2 linked regions of the Homo sapiens genome follow. The protein of the gene in region 2 interacts with the protein of the main gene of each other region in a biochemical or structural test. Each region holds a gene or a part of one and is shown on either strand. Other genes may lie near its edges. The genes, in order: NSMCE2 and ETV1.

What was found.
Region 1: of the proteins of ETV1 (region 2) and NSMCE2, one has a biochemical effect on the other in vitro, tested with the Homo sapiens proteins (one study listed by BioGRID).

The regions. Positions count from the first base shown.
Region 1 is NC_000008.11:125,098,335-125,102,156, reverse strand, and holds part of NSMCE2 (E3 SUMO-protein ligase NSE2), read right to left. Parts: intron 2,704-3,822; exon of another isoform or gene 2,600-2,703; intron 144-2,599; exon of another isoform or gene 107-143; 5' UTR 11-106; intron 1-10. UniProt on the Homo sapiens protein: E3 SUMO-protein ligase component of the SMC5-SMC6 complex, a complex involved in DNA double-strand break repair by homologous recombination. Is not be required for the stability of the complex.
Region 2 is NC_000007.14:13,895,526-13,899,347, forward strand, and holds part of ETV1 (ETS translocation variant 1), read right to left. Parts: intron 563-3,822; coding exon 341-562; 3' UTR 1-340. UniProt on the Homo sapiens protein: Transcriptional activator that binds to DNA sequences containing the consensus pentanucleotide 5'-CGGA[AT]-3'. Required for olfactory dopaminergic neuron differentiation; may directly activate expression of tyrosine hydroxylase (TH).

The sequences.
Region 1 (3,822 bases), on a different chromosome or scaffold from region 2:
TGCCACTCACCTGGGCCACCAAACACAGCTGGACTCAATATATGGGGAAGGTAAGTGTCCTCAGTTTTTGGAGAGAGATTACCCTCTTCCAAAAGAGTGCTTGATTCTGTGAAGAAGTCAACAATAGCACAGTTCTTAAAAGCCTACAAGATAAATGGGTTAGAAAAAGTAGACCACTCATATGATGCAATTTTCCAAAGAGAAAAAAATACTAATAAAATAGTTTATTAGTAAACTATTTTGAAAACCTGTAATCGTTAAACTATCCAACATATATGCATACTGAATTCTGGAAACTGTAAAAAAAAGAGAAAATCTATATTCCTGCCAGTTCCTCTGGCTTCTAACAGATTAATAGACTTGGTGAGATCCCAGAGTCAGTGAAAGCAGAATTTCTGTATAAACTTGTCTTCTGGCAGCACATCCACTATAACAGTTTCAGTTATTACCTTCATATTTAACACTTCCTAATCTATATCTTCAACCACAATTTGTTTCAGCTTAGTAAAGCAATGTAAAGCTGCCTACAAAAGGACATCTCTGCTTAATTCAGAAGCCATTTGAAACTCAATCCACTGAAACCAACTAGAAAAGTGGGGAGAATTCACAGTTTTAAAGGGATGGGAGGGCTATTAACAAGGCTCTATGGCAGCAGAAAAAGGGGTATTTTCATGGAATCAGATAGACATAACATGAAGACTGCTAAACATCTCTGAATCTCAGCTTTACCATCTTTAAAATGGAAAGGAATAACCATGGTATGGTATAGCATACAGTACACAATTAATTAGCATTAGAGCCTTCCCTTCTGCCCTTCCTAAGTGGGGAACTGTGTAGTATCTCTGGCATTTCCATCCTCATCATTGCTACCACCTTCATCTCACAGCTGAACTACTATTGTAGTTTCTCCATTATTAGTCCTTTTTAATTAGGTTCATTCATTCATTTCACTCATAAGTATTGAGTACCTACCATGTCAATCATGAGACCCATTCAAAAATCCACAGGATATAAAAAGAGAAGGGCATAGAGACATGCAAGATGCACAGAGATGCATAAGATTTCTAATTTGAAGTGTTTGTTTACCTCAAACATCCACAGTACAACTCATTGTCAGTTCAAATATTTAGTATCTCTTTAAGTGCCAGGCACTTCCTTTAGCATGAGAATACCACAGTTTTCAAGATGAGCACTCTTAAGACACTCTCCTTTTAAAGAATTATTTTGTTATTCTAATTTGATGAAAACCTATCATGAGCCAGGCACTATCCCAGGCACTAGAAATATTCAGCCTTTGGCCAGGCGCAATGGCTCACACCTGTAATCCCAGCACTTTGGGAGGCTGAAGCAGGAGGGTCACCTGAGGTCAGGAGTTCAAGACCAGCATGGCCAACATGGCAAAACCCTGTCTCTACTAAAAATACAAAAATCAGCAGGGCATGGTAGTGGGCACCTGTAATCCCAGCTACTCGGGAAGCTGGGCAGGAGAATTGTTTGAACCTGGGAGGCGGAGGTTGCAGTGAGCCAAGATCATGCCACTGCACTCCAGCCTGGGCAACAGAGCAAGACGCGGTCTCAAAAAAATAAAAATAAAAAAAATTCAGCCTCTACTCCCAGGGGCTCACCACTGAGTAGGAGAGACAGAGATAAAACATAAACCTGATAATTAAAGCAACATGGGAGTTACTGCAAAGCTGAGGCACAGATAAGAAAATGCTCAACTTTGCCTGACTGGATCAAAGAAGGGAACATAGAACTGAGTTTAAAGGATAAAAGACGAAGTTTAACAGATGGAAGGGTAATGGAGAAGGGCATTCAGGCAAAGGAAAAGGCAGGTAGGAATGAAGTGCACAAATCATTGCAGAGTACATAAGACAATACTTGACTTTTCCTGATTCTATTATGCTCTTTTACGACTCCTCTCACTAGAAACTTCCAACACTTCCTCCTCTATCCTCACTCTCACTGAAAGATCTAGTTTCCTAATTTCCTGAGGAAACAGAAGCAGTCAGAATAGAAATTTTGCAAGCTCCCACCGCTTACCTCTCCACCTATCAGCATCAGTTCTCATACACTCTGCTTTCCCTCCTGTTAAAATGAATAAACTGTTGCTCCTAGATAAGGCCACCTCCACTCCAATTATCCACTAGATCCTATCCCTCCCTCCCTACTCTAAGACATTCTCCCAGCAATTCTCCCTGCTTTCCTGCATCATTAAATTTTCCCTCTCTACTGAATCATTCCCTTCAGCAAACAAATACACCATTACTTCTCCCATCTCAAAAACATCCTCCGACTTTCCTCCCACTTACCCCTCTGGTTACCAGCCCCATTTCTCTACTCAGCCTTAGAGCAAAACTCGTCTGTAGATTTGTATACATTTGTCTCCAAATCCTCTCCTTCCATTCCCTTTGGAACCCACCCCCACTAGGGTTCCATCTCTATCACTCCACTGCAACTGCTCTTGTCAAGGTCACCTGAAAAGACTTAATGTTAAATTTGTTATCAATGCTCAGCCCTATCTCCTTTGACCTATCAGCCAGCAGTATGCAACACAGTTAATCACTCCCTTCCTGATGCACTTTCTGCACCTGCCTACCTTGTTCTTGTTCTCATTCTCCTTTCTGTTTCCTCTCCATCTCCTTGAGCTCCATATGTTGTAGGGTCCCAGGTTCAGAATCCAAGCTTCTTTTTCTTCTCCTTCTATACCCAAATCAAATACAGCCCTGCCTCAGGGCTATGCCTTCTTGGTTCCCTCTGCCATGATACTGGTCCCCTAGATATCTACTAGGTCAATTCCCTTACTTCTCTAAGGTCTCCCTTTGAGTATCACCTCATCAGTAAGGCCTTCCCTGGCCATCTGATATACAACGGCAAGCCCTCCCAATCTCCACCCCCAGGCATTCCCACCCTTCTGCTTCTGCTTTATCTTTCCTCAAGGCAGGTATTGCCAAACGACATTCTTGTATTTATTAGGTTTATAGTGTCTAGTCCCCAATTACACTGTAAGTTCCTTAAACTTACAGACTTTTTGACTTTTTCTGTTTTGTTCACTGCTGTATTCCAAGCACCTAAAACAACGCATGGCACATTAGTGGCCATTCAACAAAGGCTTGCTGAAAGAAGGAATGAATGTAATACTATGTATCTCCAGCACCTAAAACAGCACATGTCTCCAAAACTGTAGTATAGGTGGTATGCCCAGGGCTCAGTGCTCTGATCTCTCTTTTCCATCCTCTCCCATCCACCTAGTGTTCCCAACTAGACCCATTCCATCTAAATACCATTGGCAAGATCACTCCAGAACTTAAAACGTCCAACATGGAAGGCCCACATTCCTTCTCTCCCACCCTACCCCTCCCCCAAACCTACTCCTTTTACAACCTGCCCCATCTTACTAAATAGCAACTCCATCCTTCCATTTGTTGAACCAAAACTCTTGGTTCATACTTGATCCTTCTCCTCCTCCCCTCATATCCTATACCAAACTCAACATCAATTTTGCCAGCTCTGTAGTCAAACTATCTCCAGAATCCAACCACTCTCACCAATTCTGCTGATAACACCGTGATTCAAACCATCATCTCTTGCCTGAATTACTCCAACAGTCTCCTACCTGGTCTCCCTGCTCTCAGTCTTGCCTCTTCCACCCTATTCTCAACACAGCAGCCAGAGTAAACCTTTGAAAATGTACGTAAGATCATGTGACTCCTCTGCTCAAAAACTCCTAAGGACTTCCTGACTCACCGGGAGTAATGGCCAAAGAGCTTCGTAATAACTGACAATAGTGGTTCTCCAAATGGTTCCTGACCAAGTGTCACC
Region 2 (3,822 bases):
TTATGAAATCAAACAGACATGATATAGTTTCATCATACTCAAAACTTGTAGGACCCCATCCCAAGCCTAAGTAAAAAGTAATCCCCAAATCCCTCTGCCCATTCACCCATTAGCTTCCTGTTACACAGAATAAATGTTTAGATTACTCCCACCCACCCTCAAATAAAGTGCACAGTCCATGGCAGACCATAGAATAATGCAACAGGAAAAGCCCCTTTTTGTGTATTATTATTTAAAAATAAAATACAAACAACAGAAATAAAACAAAGATTCAGCAATTCTCTGTATCTTGCAGAAAAAAGGAAAAGCGCAAAAACGCCCTGCTTGACTGTCACTTGTGTTAATACACGTAGCCTTCGTTGTAGGGGTGGGGGTTGCAGCAGCCCCCTTCCGGCATGTAGGCCATGCTCTCATCAAAGTGAGAAAGAGGCACTGTGTCCTCCTCGTTGATGTGACGTTCCATGTCTGTCTTCAGCAGTGGACGCTGATTATCTGGAAAGGCCATGGAGAAAAGGGCTTCTGGATCACACACAAACTTGTAGACATATCTCTCTCCAGCCACCTGATGATAACATGGAAGAGAAAAACCCATCCTCACCATCGCCAGATGGGGAAGGACAGGAAGGAAAAAGCCAAAAACGTGGTTTAATATACAGGAAAGGATGGGTAACTCTGGCCCAAAAAAGCAAACAACTAATAGCAGATACACATAAAAAAAAAAAAGTCTTTACTTTGTGGAATAAACTACAGTTCAGTCAAGGGAGATGCAAAATGTTGACCTTGAATAATAATTAATTAATTCCAGATATAGCTAGGAAGCACAGGAATTTGCTTGTCTTAATATAGAGGTAAACTTACATCGTTGTTTTGAAAAAAAGTCAATTATTTAATGCAGGCATTTCATATTGAAAGCTTTTTTTCTGCATTTTAAAAGGTAGTATCTACAAATCTGTACTTTTAAGGTACACTGTCCCTCTTAATATTACATATCTGAAATGGTAGAAAAACTAAATTCAAAATTTAAAAGAAAAATGTGCTTTATTCCCAATAAGACTAGACTAGTAATTCACTGATTCACAGAATAAATGGATTCTTTACTTTTTTTCTTTTTTGGCAGTGTGTGTTGAAAGAAGAAAGAAAGGAAAGAAATAAAGAAAGAAAGAAAAGAGAGAGAGAAAGAAAGAAAGGAGAGAGAAAGAAAAAGAAAAAGAAAGAAAGGAAAGAAAGAAAGAAAGAAAGAAAGAAAGAAAGAAAGAAAGAAAGAAAGGATACACAGCCTCATTTAAATGAAAGATGGATCAAAAGGACAGTATCCTGGGTACATCACTTTTAAAAATGAAGGCAAGATGCATTAGACAGAGTTAAGGATGTGTGTAAAGTGTCAAATTGAAGTAAGAGGTGTAAAAAAGTGAAAGGAATTTAAAATACACAATGCACAGGGAGGAAATGAGAAAAAGAAATGTGACAACTGCCTGGAATAAAGAAGTAGCATAATTTATAGGGTATGACATACCCCAAACTTAAATTCTGAAGAGTAATGCTTCCCTAGAAAATTATAAACAACTGAGTGAGATGAATACGCCTCTTGTTAATAGACAATGCTGAGATGCTCTCAAAACCCGGGGTGGGGGGATGGGTGGATGAATACAGTTCTTTCTATTAACTTTGATAGTCACTTTGTATGGGTGTGTGTAAAGGTATGAGATTTTAGAAAGCTGAAGGTGACACAACACCTCCATGTTCCTGTATATCAACAAGGCATTTGCTAGTTGATTTTTGATGTGGGGCAACAGTGTGTTCCTGGGTTATAAAGTATTGTTATATCTTTGAGGGAAAAGTAACAATTGTCAATGAATGCTGCTGCTCTGAATTCAAATTTAGAACATTTTTTGTTTCTTTTGCCCTGAATTTAAGTAAGAGGAACCACTTTAGAGAATTCAAATAATCTGAATGTACCTAGGTTTGAAAGAATGAACATTTAGTAGTTTTTATGAATTTGGACCTGTTTCTTAGACTACCTCTCAGTGGCCTTTGCTGTGAAATGGAGACAGGAATGGCGCCTCAGAAAGCCCATTGCAAGGTTGGGATGGAAGTCTCCAGCACAGAGCACTGTGCCAGAAACAGAGGAGTCTGGCATACATTTATTTACTTTAGTCCTTCATACAAAGAAAATTAAGATCTTAAAGGTGAAATGATGAAATGACCATAAACATAAAAATAGCACTATCAGGAACAAAGCTGAGATAGTAAATCCTAGTTTTCCTTTATTTTTTTCTTTGTTCAAAGTATTTGGAGAAAAAATAAAATAAAATAAATGGCCTGCATACCTCTGAGTGTTTTATAATGTGCTTTGTTTTGTTTGGGGCTGTGGAGGAAGATACATTTGCTTTAAGTACTGGACTTCCTTTGACGGGTTGCTACTGGCTATACTTAAAAATTATGTAATAAATGAATTAAAATGTGTAACATGCAATCAAGCTTATGCAATCTCTCAAGGACTCTGCCTTTCCTCACTGCTTCCTTCTGTATTGCTTTTGAATAAACATTTTTAGGGCTACTACTTCATTTGCTGGACTATGTTAAATGCTACTGAGTTTAGAACAAGGGATGATAACCAACCAAGGGGAATGATGTCTTCCATTATGAGTAACAGAAGTACTAACGTGCAAAATGCTGTACATTAAGTATAGCCAAAATGCAACACTGAGACAGACAGAAAAAACAGGAATTTTTCCAGGGAGATAAATCAAAAGTAAACAAGGAGATAGCTTTAGAGCTGTGCTTTCAATGGCTGGATATTCAAATTATGTTTTATCTCTTAAAATTTCAGAAGTAATATGGGGATACTGAAGGATAAATTAGAAATTATCAATTAAGTTAAAACAAAGGGTCTATAATTATATCATCCAGAATATAATCACCATTAACATATTGGTATATATTGTTCTAGGCATTTCCTAATTTTGAAATAGAAGTACACATAGGCATTGTCTGTAAGGTAAACATACACTGTTCCATTGTTTCTTACTTCTTCCGTATTACTAAAATTAATTACCAGTTTTCAATTTTTTTAACATGTTCAGATGTAAGTTATTTTTATTTTTCTCTAATCTTCTAATTTTCTATATTATATACACCACATATGCCCACAAAGTTTTAAGTTAGTGAACAAATATAGCCATATAAATATTTTCTCCTACATGTTAAAATATATAATTCAACATCATAGTTTTTGCTATTTAAAAAAGGACAGCATAGTTTTCCTCTGAATGACTATACTAGAATTTACTTGAACATCAGAATGGTACATATCCGAGAATGTGATTAGCTGGGTGCAGTGATGCAAACCTGTAGTTCCAGCTACTCAGGAGGCTGAGGCAGGAGGATTGCTGGAGCCCAGGAGTTCAGATATACTTTACATTGTGCCAGTTACAATGTAAAGTATCTCAAGTACATTATTTCATTTAATAATCACAGCAACTTTAATGAGGCAAGAATATCACCATTTACTAGGAAAATAATCTGTTCAAGAATGTAATCTGGTGAGAGGCTAGCATTCAAACCTAATTCCTGACTGCCTTATCTGTTACTGCTGTGCAATACTGCCCGGGGACACTGCTGAGCACCATCTGTGACAGCCCAGGCAATGTGCCCCCGCATTAGGAAGATGGTGGTGAAAAGAAAGGAATGGAATGTATTTGAAGGATCTTACTACAAAAAGGTAGGTGAGAGAAAGGGAGGAATTAGAAATGACCCCAGGGTTGAGATGAAAAAGACAGGAGGAGCAGGTAGTAAACTGTTATACATTTTGAAGGCATGATT